Linked DNA regions of Homo sapiens. The protein of the gene in region 7 purifies or fractionates together with the protein of the main gene of each other region. This does not show direct contact. Each region holds a gene or a part of one and is shown on either strand. Other genes may lie near its edges. The genes, in order: CLTCL1, ITIH2, INTS7, ATP12A, IPO13, DCP1B and HS3ST4.

What was found.
Region 1: the proteins of HS3ST4 (region 7) and CLTCL1 purify together in Homo sapiens (affinity purification with mass spectrometry; one large-scale study listed by BioGRID and IntAct). This does not show direct contact.
Region 2: the proteins of HS3ST4 (region 7) and ITIH2 purify together in Homo sapiens (affinity purification with mass spectrometry; one large-scale study listed by BioGRID and IntAct). This does not show direct contact.
Region 3: the proteins of HS3ST4 (region 7) and INTS7 purify together in Homo sapiens (affinity purification with mass spectrometry; one large-scale study listed by BioGRID and IntAct). This does not show direct contact.
Region 4: the proteins of HS3ST4 (region 7) and ATP12A purify together in Homo sapiens (affinity purification with mass spectrometry; one large-scale study listed by BioGRID and IntAct). This does not show direct contact.
Region 5: the proteins of HS3ST4 (region 7) and IPO13 purify together in Homo sapiens (affinity purification with mass spectrometry; one large-scale study listed by BioGRID and IntAct). This does not show direct contact.
Region 6: the proteins of HS3ST4 (region 7) and DCP1B purify together in Homo sapiens (affinity purification with mass spectrometry; one large-scale study listed by BioGRID and IntAct). This does not show direct contact.

The regions. Positions count from the first base shown.
Region 1 is NC_000022.11:19,281,720-19,285,219, forward strand, and holds part of CLTCL1 (clathrin heavy chain 2), read right to left. Parts: intron 1-3,500. UniProt on the Homo sapiens protein: Clathrin is the major protein of the polyhedral coat of coated pits and vesicles. Two different adapter protein complexes link the clathrin lattice either to the plasma membrane or to the trans-Golgi network.
Region 2 is NC_000010.11:7,723,816-7,727,315, forward strand, and holds part of ITIH2 (inter-alpha-trypsin inhibitor heavy chain H2 precursor), read left to right. Parts: intron 1-3,134; coding exon 3,135-3,303; intron 3,304-3,500. UniProt on the Homo sapiens protein: May act as a carrier of hyaluronan in serum or as a binding protein between hyaluronan and other matrix protein, including those on cell surfaces in tissues to regulate the localization, synthesis and degradation of hyaluronan which are essential to cells undergoing biological processes.
Region 3 is NC_000001.11:212,004,558-212,008,057, reverse strand, and holds part of INTS7 (integrator complex subunit 7), read left to right. Parts: intron 1-608; coding exon 609-808; intron 809-1,296; coding exon 1,297-1,419; intron 1,420-3,500. UniProt on the Homo sapiens protein: Component of the integrator complex, a multiprotein complex that terminates RNA polymerase II (Pol II) transcription in the promoter-proximal region of genes.
Region 4 is NC_000013.11:24,683,408-24,686,907, reverse strand, and holds part of ATP12A (potassium-transporting ATPase alpha chain 2), read right to left. Parts: intron 1,595-3,500; coding exon 1,535-1,594; intron 1-1,534. UniProt on the Homo sapiens protein: The catalytic subunit of a H(+)/K(+) ATPase and/or Na(+)/K(+) ATPase pump which transports K(+) ions in exchange for Na(+) and/or H(+) ions across the apical membrane of epithelial cells.
Region 5 is NC_000001.11:43,960,450-43,963,949, reverse strand, and holds part of IPO13 (importin-13), read right to left. Parts: intron 3,075-3,500; coding exon 2,937-3,074; intron 2,785-2,936; coding exon 2,688-2,784; intron 1-2,687. UniProt on the Homo sapiens protein: Functions in nuclear protein import as nuclear transport receptor. Serves as receptor for nuclear localization signals (NLS) in cargo substrates.
Region 6 is NC_000012.12:1,997,958-2,001,457, reverse strand, and holds part of DCP1B (mRNA-decapping enzyme 1B), read left to right. Parts: intron 1-3,482; coding exon 3,483-3,500. UniProt on the Homo sapiens protein: May play a role in the degradation of mRNAs, both in normal mRNA turnover and in nonsense-mediated mRNA decay. May remove the 7-methyl guanine cap structure from mRNA molecules, yielding a 5'-phosphorylated mRNA fragment and 7m-GDP.
Region 7 is NC_000016.10:25,690,734-25,694,758, reverse strand, and holds the start of HS3ST4 (heparan sulfate glucosamine 3-O-sulfotransferase 4), read right to left. Parts: upstream 2,801-4,025; 5' UTR 2,342-2,800; coding exon 1,608-2,341; intron 1-1,607.

The DNA.
Region 1 (3,500 bases), on a different chromosome or scaffold from region 7:
TTGGGGATCGATGTTGGGTTAATACGGTGACATTCTGATTTCAACTCCAAATACCAAGAATTGGTAATCCTGAATAATTTGTATCCAATCTCTTGAGCATAGTGGGTTCTTAAATAATAGTAGCTGAGTCAAGTTCCTTATCTAAGAGCATACATACACATGTATGGCATTTGAAAAAGGTAAAAGTCCCTCACAAATAAGACAGTGTTTTAACAACTGAGAAGAGTGGATCCAAAAATAAGATAAAGACTATTAGAATCAGATTAAATTAAGACAGTAGTTCTCAACCAGGAGTGCTATTCTGCATTCTTCAGAAATGGGAAAGGGGCGGCCGGGCACGGTGGCTCACGCCTATAATCCTAGCACTTTGGGAGGTCGAGGTGGGCAGATCATAAGGTCAAGAGATGGAGACCATCCTGGCCAATATGGTGAAACCCCGTCTCTACTAAAAACACAAAAATTAGCCAGGCATGGTGGCGTGCACCTGTAGTCTCAGCTACTCGGGAGGCTGAGGCAGGAGAATTGCTTCAACCCAGGAGGCGGAGGCTGCAGTGAGCCAAGATCGCGCCACTGCACTCCAGCCTGGCGACAGAGCCAAGACTCCGTCTCAAAAAAAAAAAAAGAAATAGGCAATGGGTTCGGGCGCAGTGGGTCACGCTTGTAATCCCAGCACTTTGGGAGGCCAAGACGGGTGGATCACTTGAGATCAGGAGTTCAAGACCAGCCTGGCCAACATGGTGAAACCCCGTCTCCACTAAAAATACAAAAATTAGCTAGGCCTGGTGGCATGTGCCTGTAATCCCAGCTACTCAGGAGGCCGAGGCAGGAGAACCCAGGAGGTGGAGGCTGCAGCAAGCCAGGATCACTCCACTGCACTCCAGCCTGGGCGACAGAGCGAGACTCTGTCTCAAAAAAAAAAAAAGAAAAAGAAAAAGAAAAAAAGAAATGGGCAAGGGTAGTTTTAATAGTACAATGAGTGGGGAACTCATTCTCTACTCATTTAGCCAGGAATGCTCAATACAGGACAATCCCACAAAAATAACTTTTCCATCTAAGATGCCAGATACTACTGTGAGTTTTTCTCCATACGCAGGAACTAAGTCCCAGAAAAGTGATGTGCTGAAAAGCCAGGTTTTTTCTTTCTTTCTTTCCTTTTTTTTTTTTTTTTAGACAGAGTCTTACTCTGTCACCCAGGCTGGAGTGCAGTGGTGGCACCATCTCGGCTCATTGCAACCTCTGCCTCCCCAGTTCAAGTGATTCTCCAGCCTCAGCCTCCCAAGTAGCTGGGACTACAAGTGCCCACTACCACGCCTGGCTAATTTTCATATTTTCAGTAGAGACGGGGTTTCACCACATTGGCCAGACTGGTCTCAAACTCCTGACTTCAAGTGATCCACCCGCCTCGGCCTCCCAAAGTGCTGGGATTATAGGCGTGAGCCACAGGGCCTGGCCCAGGTTTGTTTTTTTTTTCACTAGTTAGTAGAAATAACCAAGGATTCCTGATCCCTAGTATATTATTCTGATAGGTAACCTAGCTACACATTTTTAAAAAAATTTTCTTTCTTTTTTTCTTTCTTTTGAGACAGAGTCTTGCTCTGTCGCCAAGGCTGGAGTGCAGTGGTGCAATCTTGGCTTACTGCAAAGTCTGCCTCCCACACTCAACCGATTCTCATGCCTCAGCCTCCCAAGTAGCTGGGAATACAGGTGTCCGCCACTGCACCTGGCTAATTTTTGTATTTTTAGTAGAGACAGGGTTTTGCCATGTTGGCCAGGCTGGTCTTGAACTCCTGGTCTCAAGTGATCCACTTTCCTCGGCCTCCCAAAGTGCTGAGATTACAGGCATGCACCACTGCACTGGACCTTAGCTACACATTTTAAATGGCATATATAAGATTTAACTAAAGAAAGGTAAAGAAGATGCTGTCTAATGATCCTTTTCAGTTCTCAAAGCCTGCAATTAAATCAATCAAAATTCAAATCTGACAATGGGGGCCAGACATGGTGGCTCATGCCTGTAATCCCAGCACTTTGGGAGGCCGAGGCGGGTAGATCACTGGAGGTCAGGAATTCGAGACCAGCCTGGTCAACATGGTGAAGCCCTGTCTCTAGTAAAAATAAAAAACTTAGCTGAGCATGGTGGCACACGCCTGTGGTCCCAGCTACTCAGGAGGCTGAGGAACAAGAATCGCTTGAAACCAGGAGGCAGAGGCTGGAATGAGCCAAGATTGTGCCACTGCACTCCAGCCTGGGTGACAGAGACAGACCCTGTCTCAAAAAAAAAAAAAAAAAAAAATCTGACACTGGGGAATATGCAAAAAGAAATTACTCATCTGATAGTCCTGTGGTTTCTATGTATAAGGGGCTTAAGGAAGATGTCTGCCTGGGAGGACTACAACTGTGTTTGTACAAGAGTATTAGTGAGAACATCAACTGCCTACATCAGTGAAGCCAGAATGCTTAAGTTGCACTGAACATCCCCATGTTTTCACACCTATGTGGACACCAATATTTTTTCTTTCTGTATCTGTCTCCTTCCCAGTCTCACTCACTGCTTTATCCTTGTGCCTAGCATATGGATGGTAAACAAATAGTAAAACAAATTACTTGTTTCAGGGCAGTAAAATTTAGTTCATCTACAGTTTTTAAAACATACTTTGAGGGCCTGGCGTGGCTGCTCACGCCTGTAATACCAGCACTTTGGGAGGCCGAGGCGGGTGGATCACCTGAGGTCAGGAGTTGGAGACCAGCCTGGCCAACATAATGAAACCCCATCTCTATAAAAATACAAAAATCAGCTGGGTGTGGTGGCGGGCACCTATAATCCCAGCTACCTGGGAGGCTGAAACAGGAGAATCACTTGAACACGGGAAGCGGAGGCTGCAGTGAGCCAAGACCACGCCATTGCATTCCAGCCTGGGCAACAAGAGTGAAACTCTGTTTCAAAAAAATAAATGGGCTGGGTGCAGTGGCTCACACCTGTAATCCCAGCACTTTGGGAGGCTGAGGTGGGCGGATCACGAGGTCAAGAGATTAAGACCATCCTGGCCAACATGGTGAAACCCCATCTCTACTAAAAATACAAAAATTAGCCAGGCATGGTGGCACGCACCTGTAGTCCGAGCTACTCAGGAGGCTGAAGCCAGGAGAATCGCTTGAACCGGGGAGGCAGAGGCTGCAGTGAGCTGAGATCATGCCACTGCACTCCAGCCTGGTGGACAGAGCGAGACTCTGTCTCAAGAAAATAAAATAAAAAACACATTTTATATTTGAAACACGCTGGGCGCGGTGGCTCACGCCTGTAATCCCAGCACTTTGGGAGGCCGAGGCAGGCGGATCACAAGGTCAGGAGATCGAGACCATCCTTGCTAACACGGTGAAACCCTGTCTCTACTAAAAATATAAAAAATTAGCTGGACGTGGTGGTGGGTGCCTGTAGTCCCAGCTACTCGGGAGGCTGAGGCAGGAGAATGGCGTGAACCCTGGAGGCAGAGGTTGCAGTG
Region 2 (3,500 bases), on a different chromosome or scaffold from region 7:
CCTCTTCCTTCTCTTTCTCTTTTCCACTCTCTATCCAATATTTCCTTGAAAAACTGTCTCAAAACTCACCTCTTTGAAAAACAGAATCTCTATATAACCTCTTCTTTCAAGGATCAGTCACATTCTTTTTGCTCTTCCACATGTTTTATTATAATATCTTGTCATTGTCCACATATGACTATTGATTCAATATATACATATTATTTCTAATTATATGGTAATTGCTTGAGAGCAGCTATCCATCTTATGTTTTCCAGCTCAGAGCTCAATATAGGCTTACTTAGTGATAAGTGAGATGTACAGATGCAATACTAAAGACCAAACAAGGAAATGATTTAACTTACCCATCAATCCATCCATCCATTCAACCAAGTTGAACAACCAACTAACCAGTCATAGGGCAACTATTTTTGACCACCCAAGAGTTCACTACTACCCTAAGATCTGTAAGGAACCTAAAAGAAGTCCCTGTCAGCCAGGCACAGTGGCTCACGCCTGTAATCCCAGTACTTTGGGAGGCCAAGGCAGGTGGATCACCTGAGGTTGGGAGTTTGAGACCAGCCTGACCAACATGGAGAAACCCTGTCTCTACTAAAAATACAAAATTAGCCAGGCGTGGTGGTGCATGCCTGTAATCCCAGCTACTCGGGAGGCTGAGGCAGGAGAATTGCTTGAACCCAGGAAGCGGGAGTTGCAGCGAGCAGAGATCGCGCCATTGCACTCCAGCCTGGGCAACAAGAGCGAAACTCCATCTCAAAAAAAAAAAAAAAAAGAAGAGGAAGAAGACGAAGACGAAGAAGAGGAAAAAGAAGACCCTGTCTTTCACAGACCCTGCCTGCCTGGGTCTGTACTCCCAGGCAGGGTTTCTCAGCAGTGGGACTATTGATATTTTGGATGGGGTCATTCCTTGTTGTAGGAGGGCTGTCTGGTGCATTGCAGGATACTTAGCAGCATGGTCTATGGTCTATTTGCTAAATTTTGGTAGCACAACCTCCCCTGCATCATAACAATCAAATATAACGTCAGACATTGCCAAATGTCCGCTGGGGGGAATAATTGCCTCTGGTTGAGAAACATTGCTCTAATACAACAGTTTATTCACTGCTTCCTTCCTTCCATCACTCATTCATTTAACAAATATTTACGAAGCACCTACTATGTGTCATACACTTAGTTCATCTATGAGCAAAACAGACCCAAAGCATAAAAACAGAAACCAAACAAAAAACAGAAAAAAAACGGATGCCTACCCTCTGTGTGCTTATGAAACTTACATCTGAGGGATAGGGGACAGAGAATAAACAATACACATGCAAGTACAAATGTACAAGTACGTTCAATGGCAGCATTTTGATAAAAGTTTTTTTAAAAAATAAAAGAAGCATATGTTAAAAACCAAGAGTGGCAATTGCAGGGGTATGCAATTTTAAATAGGCTTGTCATCTAAATAGGTGGTTTCCTGGAGAAGACCTCTGAGGAGACCCTGAGAAGGTGAAGGGAGAGTTGTGCAGATATCTAAGGGAATTAAATGCAATGAACAGCTCATGCAACAGTTCTAAGTCGAAAGTGTGCAAAGAACAGAGAGAGATGCCAGTAGAGAGGGGCAGTGGGAGATGAGATCTGAGAAGTGAGAGGCAAGGTGGCTCATGGAACACCTGTGCAGTCATGATCAGAGCTGGATTCTGGAATCTGTTTTGAAGGTAGAGTAAACAGTATATCCTGAAGGGCTAGCTGTGAGGCAAGGGAAGAAAAGAGAAGTGAAAGATGCCCCAGGACTTAGCCTGAGTGACTAGAAGGATGAAGTGGCCATCCATGAGTTGACAAAGACAGAAATGTAATCAGACATTGCAGGGAATGTCCCAGTTTGGTTTTGGATGCAAAGTCTGAGATTTCTATTAAGTACCCACGTTGGCCATGGAAGCGTGGTGTTCAAAAGTGAGATGTGGAGACACACAGTTAGGACTCCCCAGCATATAGAAGGTACTGTCAGCATTGGGACTAGGTGAGAATGCCGAGGAGTAGATGGACAAGGGAGCCAAGATCAGACAACAGAGCATTCCAATATTGGGAATTTGGGAAGAAGAGGATAATTGGTGATAGAGACTAATAAAAACAATTAGTAAGTGGGGGAGAAAAATCAAGAGAGAATGAGGCCCTGGAAGACAATTGAGGAATTTGTGTTCAGGAGGGAGATGAGAGCACTTGCCGGTGCATGAGAAATGAAGATGGACCTTTGGATTTAGTGACATTAGCATCATTGGTGACCTTGACAAGGGCAGTTTCAGTAGAGTGACAGGGATGAAAACCCGAAAGGATTGGGCTTATGAGAGAATAGGAAGAGAAGATTTGGAGACAGTGTGTTTAGACAATTCCTCAAGGAATTTTATTGCAGAAGAAAGCTGAGAAATGAAGAAAGTGGATGCACATGAGGTTTGTAGAAGGGTGAGAAATAACATGTTTTTGTTGATGGAAATGTACCAATAGAATAGGGAAATTGAAGAGGCAAAGGACAATTGCTGGAGCCATGATCTTTAGTCAAAGAGAGGGAATGAAATAGTTCATGAATAGATGGGTTTGCATTAGGTAGAAATACTGCTAGTTGTTCTTTATTATCAGGTAGGAAAGAAAAATGTATGGGTACAAATATTGATGGTTGGGATTTTATGGTAGTGGGAGTCTGTGGGAATGTTCTTCTGTCTGCTGCAGTTTCTCAGTGGAGTTGGAATCAAAATCATCACACGTAAGCTAGAGAAAGAGGGTGATGGTGGTGGTTTAAAGAGAAAGATGAGGAAATAGTTTAAGAGACTGGGTGAGTAGATGGACTTGAGAAATGTATTTTATTTTCAGGCATCATAAAGGTGGCACTCGAAGTTTGTGATCCTTAACATAAAGACTAGTCAAACTGGTTGTGCATAGCAAAATAGATAGTAAAATTATCAAAAAGCCAACAGTACATGCCCAGAATAAATAAGGGGCAGGTCTGCATTGACTGAGGTGGGCTCAAGAGGTTTTCTGGAAGAAGTTTAGCTTGAGAAGAACTTGAAAGATGACCAGGATCAATGATTGGTCTTCCTAGTTCCTCTGAGGCTCAGATTTTCTGTAATGGGACCTGTCTTTATTCTCTATTGAAATAGACTGTGGAAGCAATGAAGACCATATTGGATGACCTCAGAGCAGAAGACCATTTCTCTGTGATTGATTTCAACCAGAACATTCGAACTTGGAGAAATGATTTAATTTCAGCTACAAAAACACAGGTTGCAGATGCCAAGAGGTATATTGAGAAAATCCAGCCCAGTGGAGGTGAGTGTGTTGGGCTAAATCCCAAGGAGACACTTCCTCTGGGTTCAAATCATGATTCACTTAAGAAGCATTATTCCCATCACAGTGGTCTTTCCCCAGCATTCGAGGGCCTATCTTAAATAATACATTTATTGGTAATGGATGAATGCTAAGTTTGTAGTGAAAGTAGAATTTGTAATACAGCCCACATAAGCTTT
Region 3 (3,500 bases), on a different chromosome or scaffold from region 7:
AAATTTGTGTTCACCATGACCACAAAGCCATGCCATAGAGAAAAGATTTGTTGGTTTCGCTCCACTGTTGACAGGAAAACGTGGATTAGGGTTAGTCTTCATGGATCCAGTCGTGTATGCAATAAAGAAAGGCATTTACTACACAAAGTTCAGAGGACTTCGAAACCATTCTACACACAGTTTATTCACATCCTGATTATGATTTAGTTGTTGAAGGAAATAATTAAAATCATAAGTATAATCAGACTGTAGCCATCAAGTGTGTGTGTTTGTGTATATATATGTATATGTGTATGTATAATTTTTTTACTATGACAATGAGAGGAAATAGGCAGCAAATATGACTTTGCTTTCTACTGTGCTTTTTAAAGGCAGTTTTTATTATCAGCATGTAGTTTTATAATCATTGAAAAGTTAATGTCAAGATAAATACTTAGGAAAAAATATTGAATTTATCAATTGGTTCTAGTATAATCTTTAATGTTATAAATATATTAGTATACTGTGTTTTTCAAGTGCAATTTTGCTAAATGAGTCACAGCTTTTAAATCTGGAATATTATTAAGGATGGTGATCACAAATACCTTGAGAATTATTTTTGTGTCTAGGTTTAGCGACACCAGTAGACTTGAAGCTAAAATTGATACCCATTCTACAGCACATGCACCATGATGCAATCTTGGCTTCCAGTGCTCGTCAGCTTTTACAACAGCTGGTCACATCCTATCCGTCCACCAAAATGGTGATTGTGTCTTTGCACACTTTCACTCTGCTTGCAGCGTCATCTTTGGTTGATACACCTAAGCAGGTAATTTCAATTTTCTTTAAACTGCCTATCTTTGGTAAACTTACATATTAAATATATGATTAGAAATAAGAAAGTGGCCCACAAGTCTTGAGGACATTAAGGTTCTTTTCTCTAATAAAGGTCAGATTAATTTGCTTTTGCTTGCTTTTTTATTCTCTCTGTTCACAGTACTGATTGTTGGGAGCCCTTGAGGAAAATGAGATGTTATGGAGTACATGGCTGGGTGTGAAGTTGGCCGTATAAAAAAAAAAAAAGAAAGGATTGAGTATCTGTAAAATGCCAGGGCCTGTGCTAAAACTTTAAAGTTAAATGGTAGTATTTTACAAACATGGAGAAAGAGGCCCAAATGTGGGCACATAGCTAGTGAGTGACAGGGCTCTGATTTGAAGTGAGTCCTGTCCCTTTATAAGTTTCACTAAACTACACTGCATTTCTAATGATCATTTCAGTTACAGTATTGTTTATGGAGTGACTTATTTCCTTTATAGATTCAGCTTCTGTTGCAGTATTTGAAGAATGATCCCAGGAAGGCAGTAAAGAGACTTGCTATTCAAGATCTGAAATTACTTGCTAATAAAACACCACATACTTGGAGTAGGGAGAATATTCAGGTATGTAGAACTTGTAACATTTTATATAGAAAAAATAATATAACATTATAATATAGTAAAATGTTTTGCATTTTTATATTGTCTTTGTCATCTTCTAAGTGGTTGAATATGAAAAACTTCTAAAAGCATTGTTGATGTTTGTGGCAGTTATTTTATAAGTGGCACAATAAATACATAAAACTTCTATACTTCAATGTTTGTTTTAGTCAGTGAAACTTGCCACTCAGTTGCTTGTTCATTCTCCCATAGTGGCACTAAGGCTAATTGAGAAGCCCAATTACATTGGTTTGGTTTTTTTATTCTTGTATTTTTCAGTCAATTTGGGGAGAAAAATTTAGGGGCTGAATGTTATCTGTAATGGAGGTAGGGCTGGATGGGCAACTTGGGAAATATATTTCTCTCTTCCTGGAGAGCTGAAGACATTCCTAAGTCTTCTTTTGTAAACAGAAGAGCAGATCTCACTCTTTAGACTTTTAATGTGCATCTTTGACACCATCTCTTACCATCTGTTAGGTTAAATTAATATTTTATGTTTATTTTTTTCTCAAAATAGAACCCTGTTTGTTTACCCATTACCGATAGAAATAACACCATTTTGCAAATAATGCTATTTAAAATGGAACGGTAGTTTTTATCTCTCAGCTTCATCATGACTCCAGTGGATTAAAAATCTTTGAATTTCAGATTATTAAAACTAAACTGCTGTGTTTGTTTTTCTGTTTGTTTGTTTGTTGTTTTCTAAACATCTTTTAATTTACTATATTATGATTTGATAGTCACAGATATCCCAAGATAAGGGCAGTTGTTAAATCTGCATTTAATAGATAAGCAGTTAGGGTTCAGAGAGACTTAATATGCTTAAGAGAGCATCTTAAGAGAAGTAAATTAAGAATTTAATTAAGAGAGCTTCTGTCCTCTGATCCCTAGTCTTATTGCTTTTTCTACTAAATAATGCTATCTTTCCAAGAAGAGAATGTGCCCAGCCACTTTAGTCATTTTAGAGAATTTGTACAAAGAACCAAACCCAGTTATTTAGAAAGATGAGTGAGAAGCACAGTATTATTCCTTCTCATTTTTTTCTTATTGTGAGATAGATCATACATACAGAAAAGTATGTAAAATATATAAATAGTTTAAATACCTTTAAGTGAGAAAAGTATGTAAAATGTATAAATATTTTAAATACTTTTAAGTGAAAACCCATGCAACTACCATCCAGCTAGAAATAGAACATTACAGGATCACAGAACCCTGCCTCCTTCCCTTGCGTGGTCCTTCCTGGTTGAAACTTTACACCTTCCAAAAGCAAACCACCATTTTGACTTTCATGATAATAATTTCTTTGCTCTTCTTTTACCTTCTTCACATGTCTTCCTAAAGAATACTGTTTAGCTTTGTTTTTGTTTCTTTTGCTCAGCATTACACTGGTGAGACTCATCCATGTCTTTCCCCTTTAATTGTAATGTACTATCCCATTGTATGAATGTATCACAGTTTATTTGCTCTCGATGGGTTATTTCCGCATGGGCCTATTGCAAACAGTGCAGAACATTCTTCTGTTTGTCTCCCAGTTCACACACGCAAATTTCTTTAGAGTGTATACCTGGGAATGAAATTTCTGACTTACAGAAAATGCGTATCTTCAGTTTTAACAGATGATGTCAAACTGTTTTCCAAAGTCAATGAACCAGTTTACATTCCTGCTGTGTATGAGGGCGTCCATTAATCACATCCGTACCAACACATAGAATTATCAGACTTACGTTTTTTACCAGTTTAGAAGTTGTACTTTTTATGTGTAGCTCCTTGATTATTAAAGAAATTGAACACCTTTTTAATATGTTTATTGACCATTTGGATTTTCTCTTATGACATGGCTATTCAGGTCTCTTGCCTATTTTTCTGTTGATTCATAGTTATTTTTTATATATTTGGAATACTCATACTTTGTTAGTCCTTGACAATTCTATATAAATTTCAGAATCAGCTTGTCAAATTTAACAGTTTGATTGGGATTACACTGAATATAAAGATTAGTTTGTAAGAAATTGGTAACTTTATAATATTGTCTTCCAGTGCAT
Region 4 (3,500 bases), on a different chromosome or scaffold from region 7:
CACCCCAGCCCATCACCCGACCGGCTCTCCTCCTCCTGCTGCTGTGACATGACTAGCGAGATGAGGGGCTCAATAAAAATCCCCGCAAGTCCTGCTGGTTGTGTCTCTCTGCAATTTCTTTCTTTCTTTCCTTCCTTCCTTCCTTCTTTCTTTCTTTCCTTCTTTTCTTTCGACAGAGTCTCGCTCTGTCGCCCAGGCTGGAGGGCAGTGGCGCGATCTCCGCTCACTGCAAGCTCCGCCTCCCAGGTTCACGCCATTCTCCTGCCTCAGCCTCCCGAGTAGCTGGGACTACAGGCGCCCGCCACCGTGCCCGACTAATTTTTGTATTTTTAGTAGAGACGGGGTTTCACCGTGTTAGCCAGGATGGTCTCGATCTCCTGACCTCGTGATCCGCCCGTCTTGGCCTCCTAAAGTGCTGGGATTACAGGCGTGAGCCACCACGCCCGGCCCTTTTTTTTTTTTTTTTTGAGATGGAGTTTTGCTCTTGTTGCCCAGGCTGGAGTGCAATGGCATGATCTTGGCTCACCGCAACCTCTGCCTCCTGGGTTTCAGAGATTCTCCTGCCTCAGCCTCCTGAGTAGCTGAGATTACAGGCATGTGCCACCACGCCCTGCCAATTGTTTGTATTTTTAGTAGAAACGGGGTTTCACTATGTTGGTCAGGCTGGTCTCAAACTCCCGACCTCAGGTGATCTGCCCACCTCAGTCTCCCAAAGTGCTGGGATTACAGGCCTGAGCCACCACGTCTGGCCCCTGTAATGTCTTTCGACATTATTTCAGATCCTCATTTCACAGTCCTGGGCTGTTGTTCCATTCTTCTAGACCCTTCCATTTCTCACTTTAAAAAAAGAATCTTCTATGAGAACTGCCTTTTGAAAACCAATGAAAGCACCTCCATGTGTGGAAACCATGTCCCTTCTGCCTCTAAGACAGCTCCTACTCATTAGTTTAATGTGAATACTTTGACAGCTTCACCCAGATGACCTTCCTGGCTTCATTCCTGCTGCACCTGTCCCCTCTCCACACATACTAGCTTCCGGCAAGCCCAGATTCTCTCCAAGCAGGCTCTGTGCTTACTGGCCCTGGGGTCCCCCACCAGCTTAAATCCGAAGCATTTTGAGTCCCAGCGCAAACATGGCAGCAGCCCGAGAGCTGGCTCTGGCCCCTTCCATCAGAATCCACCTTTGTCCCAGCATAGCGTTTCTACTTCTTGTAGCCATCCCAGGGGGATAGAGTGAATCTCAGGACACTTCCATACACATTTGCCTCCCCTACCCGGCCACTTTCTCCTTGAGGCCAGGGGTCATCTGTCCCTCTTGGTCCCTCTCACTGCCAGGCCAGTGTGAGCCCCACAGTAGGTTTTTCTGTTGACTTGAACTGTGTCCAGATGCAAATAACTGCAGTCTCAAAGGCGCTGCAGGGGCCCCTCCTCCTAAAGGTGCCGCTACTCTTCCACACAGCCCCCCGCCACACACAGCCTTCCCTCTGTAGAGTTGGGAGGCTTCTCTTCCAAATCCCTGGTTCCCACGACTCACCATAATGATGTCTGTGCCATATTTCTCTTCCAATTCCCTATTGCTGAGTTTGTGGTCATCCTGAAGTCCATGAAAGGAAGAACAGAGTGAATTAGATAATTCCAAAAGACTCAAGCCCCAAGCTTTGACCAGCCATGGAAGCTGGGAGTAGCAGCCCTGAGGATGGGAGGGGATCGAGGAGTGTGGGGGACAGGAGAGAAAGAACCCCTGTGCCAGGCAGCTGCCCAGCGAAGGATGGCACTGCCTCAGGAGTGACTGTCCCTGAGTCGGCACAATCCTGCACTTGCTGTTACTACCCAGAAGCTGCCTGCAGCTTTTCTGAACAAAGCCATGCACCTCGCTTCAATCTGAACTCCAGGGCATACAGGTTCTGGCACCCTCATCTTCCAGGTGCCAGTGAGCTGGAGGCTTCCCTCAGGCCTGAACCCTGGGATTGGCTGGGGCTGATGGCAAAACCACACTAGAACCGCTTCCTGGGCTGGCACAACTCCTCCTCCTTCGCTGTGTGGGCTCTGGCAGGGAAAAGCAGCTTCCCTCACTCAAGCTGTGACGCTCAGGGAGCTCACTGGGCAGAGAAACCCTGCAGGGAAAAGTTCTGCTGAATAAACCCACAGCATTGTGGCTGCCACTTGTGAATTCTGCTACAGAATCATTAGACTACAGCAGGGTTTCTCACCCGTGGCCCTGCTGCCATTCTGGGAGAATAATTCTTTGTTGTGGGCTCCACCCACTAACATCCTCCCCTCAGTTGTGGTAACCAAAAATGTTTCCATTTTTCCCCTGGGAGAGGGGTGGGGGAATCCTCTTCTCCTCTCCCTTTGAGAACCACTGGGCTAAAGGACAAGAAGTCTCTTCCTGTAGCAGAAAACCTAGGGTAAGTCTTCCTCACTCCCCCTAGAAAGTCCAGCACTCAGGATTTTTTAAACCCTGATTGTCTGAAACAAAGATTGATACTGTTGACTGGTGCTCACATCATCTCTTTTCTTAAGTATATGCAAAAAATAGTTCCATGTTGCAGTAAGAGACTAGGCCTTCCAATAAAGCAGAATTCATTATTATCATTATTATCTTGCTTCTAGCCCTCTTCTCAGCCAGATTCTGTTTTGCTCCTTCATCCCTTCTACTAATACTGATTGAGTGTGATATTGCTGGGGATTCAGAAGATTAAGGCTGTGTTCTGCACAGAGCACAGCACAACCCACTAAGTTTTGGGCAGATACAAGTAGTGGATGATCCGAGCCATTGTTTGCATGCATGGGACCTCAGACTTCCTGGGCTGGGGGATGAGAGCATGGGGGAGGGGTGGGACGAGGTGGTGGTGGTTATCTGGGGTGCCCTCTGCTGGCCAGCACTGGACTAGCACAGGGCAGCACCCCACCCACCCCTCGGGTCACTGCCTGGCCCTTTCATTCAAAGGCCGGGATACTTCAGTTGTCATTAGGCACTAATTTGCCAAGAAAGGTTGGGAGGCAAAAGCATTCAATATGCTGCTGAAAATTACAGGACCCTTGTAATGTCAAGGGAAAAACAGATATGTCTTCAATCTTAAATGCTAGAGATAATGGGAAATAATAAGAACGATCTATCGTCTGGTGCTGTGCTGTCTTTTCCCTGTTTTATCTCATTTAATCTTCCTAGTAACCCTTAAGAGGTAGAAAAAAAAATCTTATGTTTTTCAAAATAGGAAACTGAACTTCAGTTACACTGGGATTTGAATTGAGGTCAGTCCAGTTTCAGGGAAGCGTTCTTAAATGTCTCTCATGATAGATACGGACAAATGCCCAGTGGTATACTGTTAAATGTTTAACAAACTCTCCAGGAACGATCAATACAAAGCTCGGATTTGTAGAGTTTGCTGATTTCTCACTAGAACCAAGTTTGAAGCTGCTAACAGGATGTCAGTCAGCCTGCCAAGTTTCTGAATACTTAACAAATGGCTCTCTAGCACAAAAGAGACTCCCCTCAG
Region 5 (3,500 bases), on a different chromosome or scaffold from region 7:
ACCACACTTACTGTGGCCTCTGGCAGGTTGGGGTAGCCCTACACTGCTCCTAGCACATACCTCCCATCAGCCAGTCATTGAAGAGGAAAGCTGGGATGGCGGTGGGGGGGTGGGGGAGTCAGTCCTTGGTATCTCCTTTTGAGGTTTATCTGAGGGCCCTAGAAAGGCCAGGGCATCAGAGCCTGAGTAAGTGCCACCTCACTTCAATGGCCTTAGGGCTCTTGGTCTGGCAAAGGAAAATAATCTATTCAGTCCACTTAAACCACAGGACTCTTGCTTAGGTAGGGCAGTGCCCAGCATGCTCTGGAGATGGCCTGGCAAGTCACTGGCAGGGCCCAGAGGAGGAAACAGTATCATAAGGCCAAAAACAAGAGCCCCACCCCAGCAAACCTCCTCCACATGGACATGGACTCTGCAGAGAGCCAAGCTCAGGGCTGAGGACTAGTTCCCATCATCTGGACATGCCAAGAAACAGGGAAACAAGAAACATGTCATCCTATGGTCCAGTGGGAAGGCAGAGCCCGAGGAAGGAATGGCTAAGATTGGGATGGCATAACAGGTATGGGAGCCATCCTGTCCAGCGAGACAACCAACAAGCCCAACGTATATGATGTTGGACACTGCTGCCTCCAGTTCTGATCATTCCTGAGGCAAGAATATGGCATGCACCTGGAGCTCCTACCCAGGCTTCTCCACTCTCAGGAGGATGTGGTACAAAACCATCTGCCTAAGACACCACTAAGTAGCTGTGTGATCTTGCGCAAGCCACAAATGCTCAGTTTCCCCATCTGTAAAGCAGATAATCTCTGCCCTGCTTCCTTCTCTAGGCTATGAAGAGTCACCAATAAAGTCTGTCCCTTTGGTATCTGAACCCTGAGTTATTTAAGTCCTAGAAAGTGAGGCCCAGTGTGCACCATGCAGGTTTGATATTCAGCAGCCACCCTGCTAGAGGTGGGCCAGAAAATGAGAAGGAAAGGTTCCAAGGGCAGGGAGCCCTCCCCCTCCTTTATTTAACAGTGTCTGTGGCCTGCTGTATTCTGGCCTCATTCTGGGCACTGGGGATGCAGAGAGAAGAAACTCAACCCTACCCTTGAGGGGCTTAAGTCTAGTAAGAGAGACAGACATGAAAGCTGATTATTGTGTGTGATCAGTGCTGTGTCAGCAGTGTGTATGGGATGCAGTTTCAGTACAGTTAGAAGCACCCAATTCTGCCTCAGAGAGAAATTACTCTGAGAAGTGATGCAGTCTTCCTCCTTTCTAAGGCATGAAGGAGTGAGAGTTCACCCAGTAAAGGGCATAGGACATTCCAGTCAGAGGAGCAAGGCACAGGGATCAAATGGGACACGGTAAGGAAGAGGCAGTGTGGCTGAAATGTTGGAGTCATGAGGACATTGGCAGGAGAGGACATTAGAGGCATGCCAGAGCCTTGTCATGTGGGTGGGAATGGAACAATAAGCTGAGGGCAATGGGAACAATGAAAGGGTTTTAAGCCCGGGATGACAAATGCTCAGATTTGTGTTTTTATGAAGATTATAGCTGCAGTGTGCAGAACAGATTGGAGAGAAGGGGAGATGCCAAGAAAACCCACTAGAAGGTTGCTGATAATCCAGGTGAGACCCTAAACTGAGGCAGTGGCCACGGAGGTGGGTAGAAGTGGACCAACCGAGAGAGAATCAGGAGTCAGGATCAATGGGGCTTGTCCCAGATTGGGTACAGGGAGTTGGGAGAGGTGGAGTTGAGGATGACCACACCAGGTTTCTGGTTCAGTTTTCTCCCCAGTTTGGACCTACTCCATGGCCCACAGAAACAGAGGCCAGGATCATGAGACCAGGCACTGAGGATATGAGCTGCGAGTACTCTGGGCACCAACCGAGACCCCTGGTGAGCCTCAAACCTGTGACCATGAATCCAGGCAAGGCTCATGAGGCTAGCTGAGCAGTGCTGTTTTTTTGTTTTTGTTTCTCCAAACTGGAAGCCTGGATTAGACAACACGAGAAGCCTGAATGAAGCCCCTGCTGCCAACTCTCTCAGGCAAAGGGCCACAGTGAGTAGAGGGCTAGGACCACAGCCAAAGGTACTTGACTTCTGGCCTAGAAAGTACTAAGCCTTGATGCAGGGAAAGGAACCAACAGTCTCTGAGTACTTCACTGTGCAAAAGCCCCTGAGCCAAGGGCCCAGAAGATGTGACTTTAATACCTGTAAACAATCATTTCAAGTATATGTTATCTCCGTTTCACAGATATGGAAATGAAGGCCCAGCAAAGGTAAGTGACTTGCCCAAGGACACACAACTAGTTGGTGGTGATGAACTTAGAATCTAGGTCTAGCTGACTTCAAAAGCCCGTGCTCTTTCCACTTTTCATTATATCCCAAAGTAAAGGAGCCAGCCTAGTGCCCCAAGCCCCTCAGAGCCTCTGCCCACCTCCCACCCCCACTTCCTTCTTCCATATCCAGACTGGCCCTGAGCCCAGCAGGCCAGCAGAAGACATCATTCACCCTCTTATCCACTTCAACCTAAAGTTTCAACTATTTATAAGGTGTTGTGCTTGATCTCACAGGTTTCCCATCAAGTCCCACGTGTGACTCAGGGGACAGAGAAGAACAGAGTGGGCAGCTTTGGCTCCCCATTTGGGGAAGCAGAGGCAGTGGCAGTGGCAGCAGCAGCAGAGACCCCGGTCAGGACCTACCTTGCTGGAAGAGAGTGAGTGTGACGGAGGTGACGAGCAGGAAGAGGGCCTCAATTGGGGGAAAGTGGGCAGGCTCATGAGCAAAGATGTGGACCAGCTACGAGAAAGCAGGGAATGCTGGTCAGCTGAGACCCAGTCTCACCAGGACATGGCAATATCCCTGGAATGCAAGTGGGGACCCCAGCCACGGCAGCCATCTGACCCACCCCCACCCAGGGTCAGGATCTCTGCCCCAACCAGAAGGCCCACCTGTCGAGTGAGGTCAAGAGCAGAGGCCTGGGGGATGGTGCTGTACATCCGACCCAGCATCTCACACAGCTGTGGCACCATGGGGGCAAAGTCATCCAGCAGCGTCTTAACAGACTTCTCAAAGATAGCGCACACCGCCTTGGGAAGAAAGCAAAGGGGCCCTGGTCAGCAGGTCATGACTGGCTGGAACAGCGCTGAAGCCCTGCACAGAGGGGGCCTACGATTGGGCCCTTACCTATAAGCCTTGCCTGGCCCTGCAAACCAAGGAAGGTAAGCAAGTCTGACCCTCACCCTGAAAGGCAGGGGGCAAAGGCCCTTCACTGAGGGGCACAGGATGTAACTGTGGAACTTAACTCCTGCGACTTACATCTCTAACATTTCCTCTCAGGGAGCAGCAACAGCAACAAAAACCTGAATTGAAAAGGGACCAAAGGCAGGTCTTTGGTGCTAAAACAGATGCCTGACTGTCACTCGACCCTAATATTAGAGTCCTTACGTTAAGCACTTCTCATGATATTGGGGAGTTCTAAATGTCTTCCCAAAAGATTCCTTATCTCTATGGGG
Region 6 (3,500 bases), on a different chromosome or scaffold from region 7:
TTTTTTAGTATTTTGAATTCTGAATTGCTTATTTCTTTAGCACTTGTTAGATTTTATAATACAGTATAATATTAAATCCTCAAATTGTACTTTTAAAATTTAAGCTAAAATACCCCAGGACTGGTAACTAATACTTTCACATAAAAGTCCTCCTTAAAGGATCTAAGGAACATCTAATCTTGTTTTAGCTATTCTCCACATCCCTAACCCTGGACTTTGCTCAGAAAGAAAAAAAAAATCTGGTTGCCCTTGGATAACTATGGAGGGGCCAGGAAAATGCGTGAATTTGGGCAGCTGTAATAGAACAGAAATGTATATTTTCAAAGTCTCTTTTATCCAGGTGTCATAGAGCGCCTGACGTTTTTTCATCAAAAGATCTGAGTAGTGTAAGCTGATTATCTCTCTTTTTTTTTTTTTTTTGAGACGAAGTCTCGCTCTTGTTCCCCAGGCTGGAGTGCAATGGCGTGACCATGGCTCACTGCAACCTCTGCCTCCTGGGTTCAAGCTATTCTCCTGCCTCAGCCTCCAGAGTATCCAGGATTACAGGCGCCTGCCACCACTCCTGGCTAATTTTTGCATTTTTAGTAGAGACGGGGTTTCACCATGTTGGCCAGGCTGGTCTTGAACTCCTGACCTCAGGTGATCCACCCGCCTCGGCCTCCCAAAGTGCTGGGGTTACAGGCGTGAGCCCCTGTGCCCGGCCTGGTTATCTCTTTTCAATGGAGAAACTGAGACATATAATAATAAACTAATTAGCCCAGCATGATCTGGCAAGAACCCCACTACAGGTCCCAGGTTGTGATTACTGAAACACAACTCCTTCCTATGAACAAACTCATATTCTTTGTGTGTAATGCTAAATAAAAATCTTAGTTTTAAGAATTACTTGTTATAAGTTAGAGATTAATTTTAGGAGAAGCATGCCTTTTACATTTTTGACCTTGGAATTTAAAAACTAAAATGTGGCATTAAAGGTTTTTTTTTTTTAATTAAGAAAAGAGAATTTCTGTTACATCAAGGAAGAAAGGAAACAAGTCAGAAGCTATTTAGTTTTATGTGTGCTGATATATATAGATATCCTTATTCAGATCTCTAAGATGAAACAGTCCAAGGTCAGATACTGGAAGACCAGGAGAGTGTTTTGATCTTGTGGGGAGTGATCCTGACTACATAGAGGTTCTGCAAAGTCCTAGTTCTATCACCTGTATCTTGGCTCAGTTTCCTAACAATGTAATGGATAATACCAAATACTTTCTACAAATTTATTTTTAAATGCTTTGTGGACTTGTGAATACTTGCTGACTGAATCAGTTAAACTTTAGGGACAGCCAAAAATTTGTATACTGTTCAGGTAGCATTTACTGTACTGTAGGGGCCATTTTCCTGATTAATACTTTGGTGGTTTGGGTGTAAGTAATTCTTAGTGCTTCAGGTACACTCAGGATATACATTTGTCAGCAGATAGGAATTAACCATGTTTGTTTTCAAAGAAAGATAAGTAATGTTTCTGTATATATATTTTTTCATTTTGACTTGGATATTTTTCAAAGTACAGGGGCAAACGAGCCACATTTCAGAAATAAGGATATGTTTCACAGTATGTTGTGGTGATTTATACAAACTTCATAGTGAATCTAGTTTAAGGATGAACTCCCTGACTTACCTATGCTTTTATGTTAGGGAAAAAACTGGCTAAAGTTGTTTTAATTGTTATTTATTTATTTATTTATAAGAAACAGGGTCTCCCTCTGTTGCCCAGGCTGGAATGCAGAGGTACAATCATAGCTCACTGTAGCCTCAAACTCCTGGGCTGAAGCAATCCTCCCTCCTCAGCCTCCTGAGTAGCTGAGACTACCGGCATGTGCCACCACACCTGGCTAATTAAAAAAATTTTTGTTTTGTAGAGGCAAGGTCTCACTATGTTGCCCAGGCTGGTCTCAAACTGAACTCCTGGCCACAAGCGATCCTCCTGCCTGCCTCAGCCTCCCAGAGTGCTGGGATTACAGACATGAGCCACTGTGCCTGGTCTAAATTCTTTATTTATAATTTCATATTCCATAATAATAAACATCTTGAGATTAAATATTTTGTTACTAGGTAATGATTTTTTATAGCCATTTACTCTTGATAATAGCTTGATATGATTTGTGCCATAATGGATTTTGTTTTCAGGACTTGTAATATAATTTCATGGGCAGAGAGTATGTTGTTGAACTAAGGCAGTGAGTGGCTCTCAAACTAGCATACATCAGAATCACCTGGACAGTTTAATAAAACCCAGATTGCTGAGCACCATCCCCAGAGTTTCTGATTCAGTAGGTTTGGGCAGGAGCCCAAGAGCTTGCATTTCTAATAAGTTCCCAGGTGACGCTGATGCCGCTGATCTGGGGATAACACTTTGAGACCCACTGAACTAAAGTGAATGAGAAATTTGCTGAAATTGCCTGAGCATGTGAAAGGATCATGCCTTGTGTGCCTTTTAAAAACTGCTGTTTTGACATTACGCTTTTTTTAAAAGGGCGTATTTTTCACCAGAATTACAGAGTACTTAAATTTTGAATGATTATGGTGATGAATATTAATAATAAAATATCAGGGGTTTAAATAGAATGCTGAAATTAAACCATGTAAATTGCAAAAGTACATTTTAAATTCTGAATTACAGTAGGTCTGGTTCGTGGTTAGTCAAACACCTGGATACTTACATGTGTGTTTTTTAGTATGCATTATATGGATGAATATTATAATGGCCTAGCTTCCTGCCTTTGGAGAAATGGAAAAGAAATGTGAAGTGACCTAGTTAAACCATCATTTTAACTTTACCACCTCTCCCAGATTTTCTCAGGCAGATTTCTTGAGTCCTAACTTGGTAATACTTGTGTAACTTTACTTCAGTGATCTCGGGTCAGACCTTGACTGTAAATATACTACACTAAGTAGGTGATTGATTCATCTGAGAACTCTGTGGCATCATTGCCCTCTCTGTCTAGCAGTCAAAGTAAAGTTATTGACAGATCATCTGCTCTCCTAAGTCACTGGATATGGCAGGAGAAAATGAACCCAGAAAACAAAATGAAGGATAGTGAAATGCAGACACCAGTGATGTCTGCAGCTTTCTCTATACCCAGTGTGGTGGAAGGAGAAAAAGGCAGCACTCTTCTTTCTAATTAAATCCGCATAGCACACTTATTTTCTCATTGTTTCAGCTAAGGGTATGCTGCTATCCCTGTATTTGGTAAAGAGAGATAATGATGATTTGTTTTATAAATGACAAAAGAAAGACTGCTTCCTGCTGCCTAATCTGCAGAGGCACAATGATGACATAGAACTTGCTTTCTCCTTTTCCTGAGAATAACTCCTCATGTTGGGTATATTTGGCCCATTGAAGTTATATATAATTCCTATTCTATGAGAATTTGTTTTATACCTTTGTGAATTGAAGAGAACATACATGTCTTGTGTGTTTTGTTTTTATTGTTTAGGAGAAAACTGATGTGGAA
Region 7 (4,025 bases):
CCTCATAAGGCCAAAGCTACTCCACAGAAGAAACCAGAACATTCCTACAACCAGCAATTAAACAACTAAAACCTTCCCAGACATCGTGCCCCTTCTTTATTTTGCTGTTGCTGCATTAATCATCCTAACACCTTTTTAATTATAATCACAAACTGGAAGCCATGGCTTCTGATGTTATAAATACTGATTTTCCAGTTAAATTAGGCATTTGCTGTTTTATGTTTTGATAGGAAGGGGCTGTTTGAAGCCTCCTAAAATACTGCAATTAGTTCTCTCTGTTGAAACAGACAAGACGTTAACAGACACATTTGCTGCTTCCCTGTAATGTGCTGGAATGTTTATGACTAAGTGTACTTCTCTCAAGCTTTTAAAGCATAAGGCATATTTTTAAAAGTGGAAGAAATCAATCATAATGCACACATTTATTATGTATTTCTTCAGTTAAGTTATTTCTAAAACTTTCCCAGGCTGTAATTTAAACCTAGAAAGCACATCTCCTCAACGGGCAGGCAACCTGTCAGAGAAACAATCTTGATTTTACCTATTGGCTCTGCTAAGATGATAACATCACTTCAGCTGACAAAGGCTGTGTTTCTGTTTGACATTTGCAATTAATTACCGAAATGCAATGGAGATGCAGCCAGCCATGCAGATCTGTTTCCCAGAAAGATATAAAACAGGAGGAAAGAGAGAAAGAGAAACAACAAAGGCGAAGGAGGTTTGCGTTTGGGGCATCTGCACCAGTGCCGTTTAAAATGTTATGGCTGGCAGGAAAGCTGGATTATTAATTTATTTTACCTGCACTTAACTTTCTAGTCCTCTCTCCTACCTTTCTCTCACCACCGGCAGACGGTGGGAAAGGAGGGAGATGAACATCTCACAAGACAGAAGCTCCAATCTGTTGCGAAGGAGGCGGAGATTAGACAGGGCACGGTCTGAGGCATAAAAACTCTCAGGGCACCAACTGTCATGCAGACATTGAGGCTTCTGGTGCAAAATCAACTCCGTGCTCATTCAGCCAAGGGGGATGGAAAGTTACGGAGGTGGGAGGCATCCTTTCTTTACTAGAAAGCCAAAACGCCAGCATGATCTTTGTAACTGTTCCCTATTCATTTTGCTCTGACCTTAACACACTAAAGTTGAATTCCAGCCACGCAAATGCGTTTGAGGGTGATTTTAAGAGATTCCAGGGGACCTCAAATCCCCTTAGTCAATTTAGCCATCCTGTCTCACTCCTCAAAGTCCTCTGCCCAGAATCCCAGAACCCCGCAAGAGCCTGGTTTCGGAAACACCCAGCAGGCAGGAGGGCTGGGGGTTCCCAGGCTTGGAGCTGGGCAGATTCAGACAGCACCTCCTTGGATGAGGAGCGCGGGAGGCAGGGCAGGGTGACACCTCCTCCCCTCGCCCTGAAATAAAGTGACCTTTCGCTGGAGTCCAGCCCTCTCAGCCGATCCCCCTGAGCAACGCCGCCAGGGTTTGCAGAGCCCTCGCGGGGGCTTGGGCCTCTCGGGACGGTGCCTGGATGCTCGAAGGGCGTGGAAAGCCGCGGCTTCCCCTCCGCGTCTCCCCCACGCGTCTCCACCAGCCCGCGGAGCCCAGGGTCCTACCTGTACCACTCCAACCCCTTTTCGTAGTTCCTGTCGAAGAAGTGCGGCTCTACGCCCACCGCCCGCACGTCCGGGTGCACGCGGATCGCCTCCAGCAGCGCGCGGGTCCCTCCTTTCTTGACCCCGATGATGAGCGCCTGTGGCAGCTTCTTCTCCCCATAGTCGGGGGTGCTGACGGCGCCGCCCCTCTCGCTGCTCCCGTTGGCCGCTCTCCGGCCTGCGAGATCCTCGTCGGTGGTGCTGGACTCCTGCGCTTCCCTCTCCGGCAGCGCGCTCTGAGCCGTGATCATCTCGCTGGGGGCCAGCGGGGTCCGGAGCCAGGCGTCCTGGGCGCCTCCGCCGCCGCTCGGCAGCCCCCAGCCGTCGGTCCCGGGGGCGGCTGGCTGCTCTGGGGGCTCGGGCGGCTCCCCGTGGCTCGCGTTGTCCAGCGGCGGCGGCGCGGGCGGCTGCGAGGGGGCGCCGAGGCGCACGGGGGTAGGCAGCAGAGAGGGTGGCGGCGGGCTCGGCGGGGGCTCGGCGGCGGCGCCCGGCGACTCCTGCAGCGCCAGAGGGAATTGCAGGGAGCCCGAGCCGCCCAGGAGGCTGTAGCACAGGTAGGTGACAGACAGGGACAAGGTGCACATAAAAAGCAGCTTGCGCGCCGGCGGCCCCTTAGCAGAGGCGCCGGGCGGCGGCGGCGCGGCCAGAGGTGGAGGCGGAGGCGGAGGCGGAGGAGGTGCGGGCCACCGGGCCATCGCGGCTCCCGGCTCGCGGCGGCGGCGGCGGCGGCGGCAGCCCCCGGCGCTGCCCGGACATGGTTTCAGCCGCCGCCCCCGCCGCCGCCGCCGCCGCCGCCGCCGCCGCCGCTGCCCAGCCGCCCCGGCTGCATGAAGCGACGCCGCTGCGCCCCCGGCCCTGGCCGCTGTCCCGCTGCGCCAGGGGGGAGCCCGGCCGCATGGCCCCCCGCCCCACGCTGCCCGCCGAGTCCGGGTGGCCCCCCCACCACCGCCCCCCCCTCAGCCTCAGGCAAGGGGACCGAGGGGGGCGCGCGGACCCGCCGGCGGCACCTGCTCCGTCTGCAGCGCCCCCGCTTCCCCGGCTCCGCCGCGGCTTCTGCTTCAGCCTCTGCCGCCGCCGCCGCGCGCTGTTGCAGCCCGGAGTTCCTTCCCCGCTGCTAACTTTCTGCCGGGAGAGAGGAGAGGCGCGGAGGGGAGGAGGAGGGGGCCGGGCGCGCGCCCGGCGCCGCCGAGGGAAGGGGGGTGCGCCTCGCGCGCGCCTGCGAAGGGGGCGGGGGAGCGGAGGCGTGCGCTAGGGCTGGGGCACCCGGGAGAACGGAGATCGTGCCCCCCAGCCCCCAGCACGCACGCACTTGGGGTGTTCCCCACCCCACCTCGTTTACTCCCCTCCCTTGGGAGCTCGGGACGCCGTGTTCTCCATTCCTTTGCCCCAGTACTTTTAGAGAGGTAAAGCCCAACGCCTGCCTCCGGTGCCGCGCACCGGGAGCTGGAAGACAGCGGGTGACGAAGCTCTCGCTTCCGCTTTTCCTCTGGGACTCCAACTCAGCCCATCCCCGACCCTCCCTTCTCTCGCCCGGGATATCCTCCTGCCTTCGGTCCAGGAGTGAATCCTTTTCTACAACCGCTTTCCCATCCCAACTTCCATCTTTCCAGCCACCGCCCCCCGCCCCCCATCTTCTCTTGAAGCTCCTGATGGGTGGAGCTTTGACACAAGCCCCCAGGTTTCCCAGCCCCAGAGCTTTTCCCTCTGTCCCATCACCAGGTGACAACACTTTCTGCTTCAAGAGATGAGGCTGCCCCTCCTCGACACCCTTAATCACAGGTGCACACACCTGCGCCTCTTCGGGGGCATTGCCACTAACGGAGTTCATGGTTTCCTGGACTGAAATAGTGTGGGACCACTGTCGCTCTGAACACCTAATAAGCGGAGACAAGCTGGGTTGCTGGGTGTCTGTGCATCGGCTCGCTGAAATTTTTTAAGTGTATTTTCTTTGCAGAGAGATCTCCACCCCTCACCTCCCTCTCCTGGGGGAACATGGTAAACATCAGAAGGCTTTGGAAGATTCACAACTAGACTTTGCTTCCTGTTGCATTTTGCTCAGGGAAGTGAGGGAAATGGGAGAAAGAGACAGAGTGATCAACTGAGGCACTCCAACAAACTCAGCTTTCTGCAACCGGGGCTGGCTCTGCACAGAGCTCTGCCAGGTGCCTCCTGGGGGTGGCTCTAGTGAGTACCATTTGCCCCCCAGCCACAGCTGGGTGCCTGACGGGGCTGCTTTTCCCTTGTTGGCTGCTGTGGCTGGCATCTCTGGTTTTGTTTGATCACGTAATAGGAAAACCAGTTGAAAGAAAATGTATATAATGTCTAAATATTAACGAGATACCTAGTGCCAAAGAGAAAAAAAATGTTAATCAAATAAGA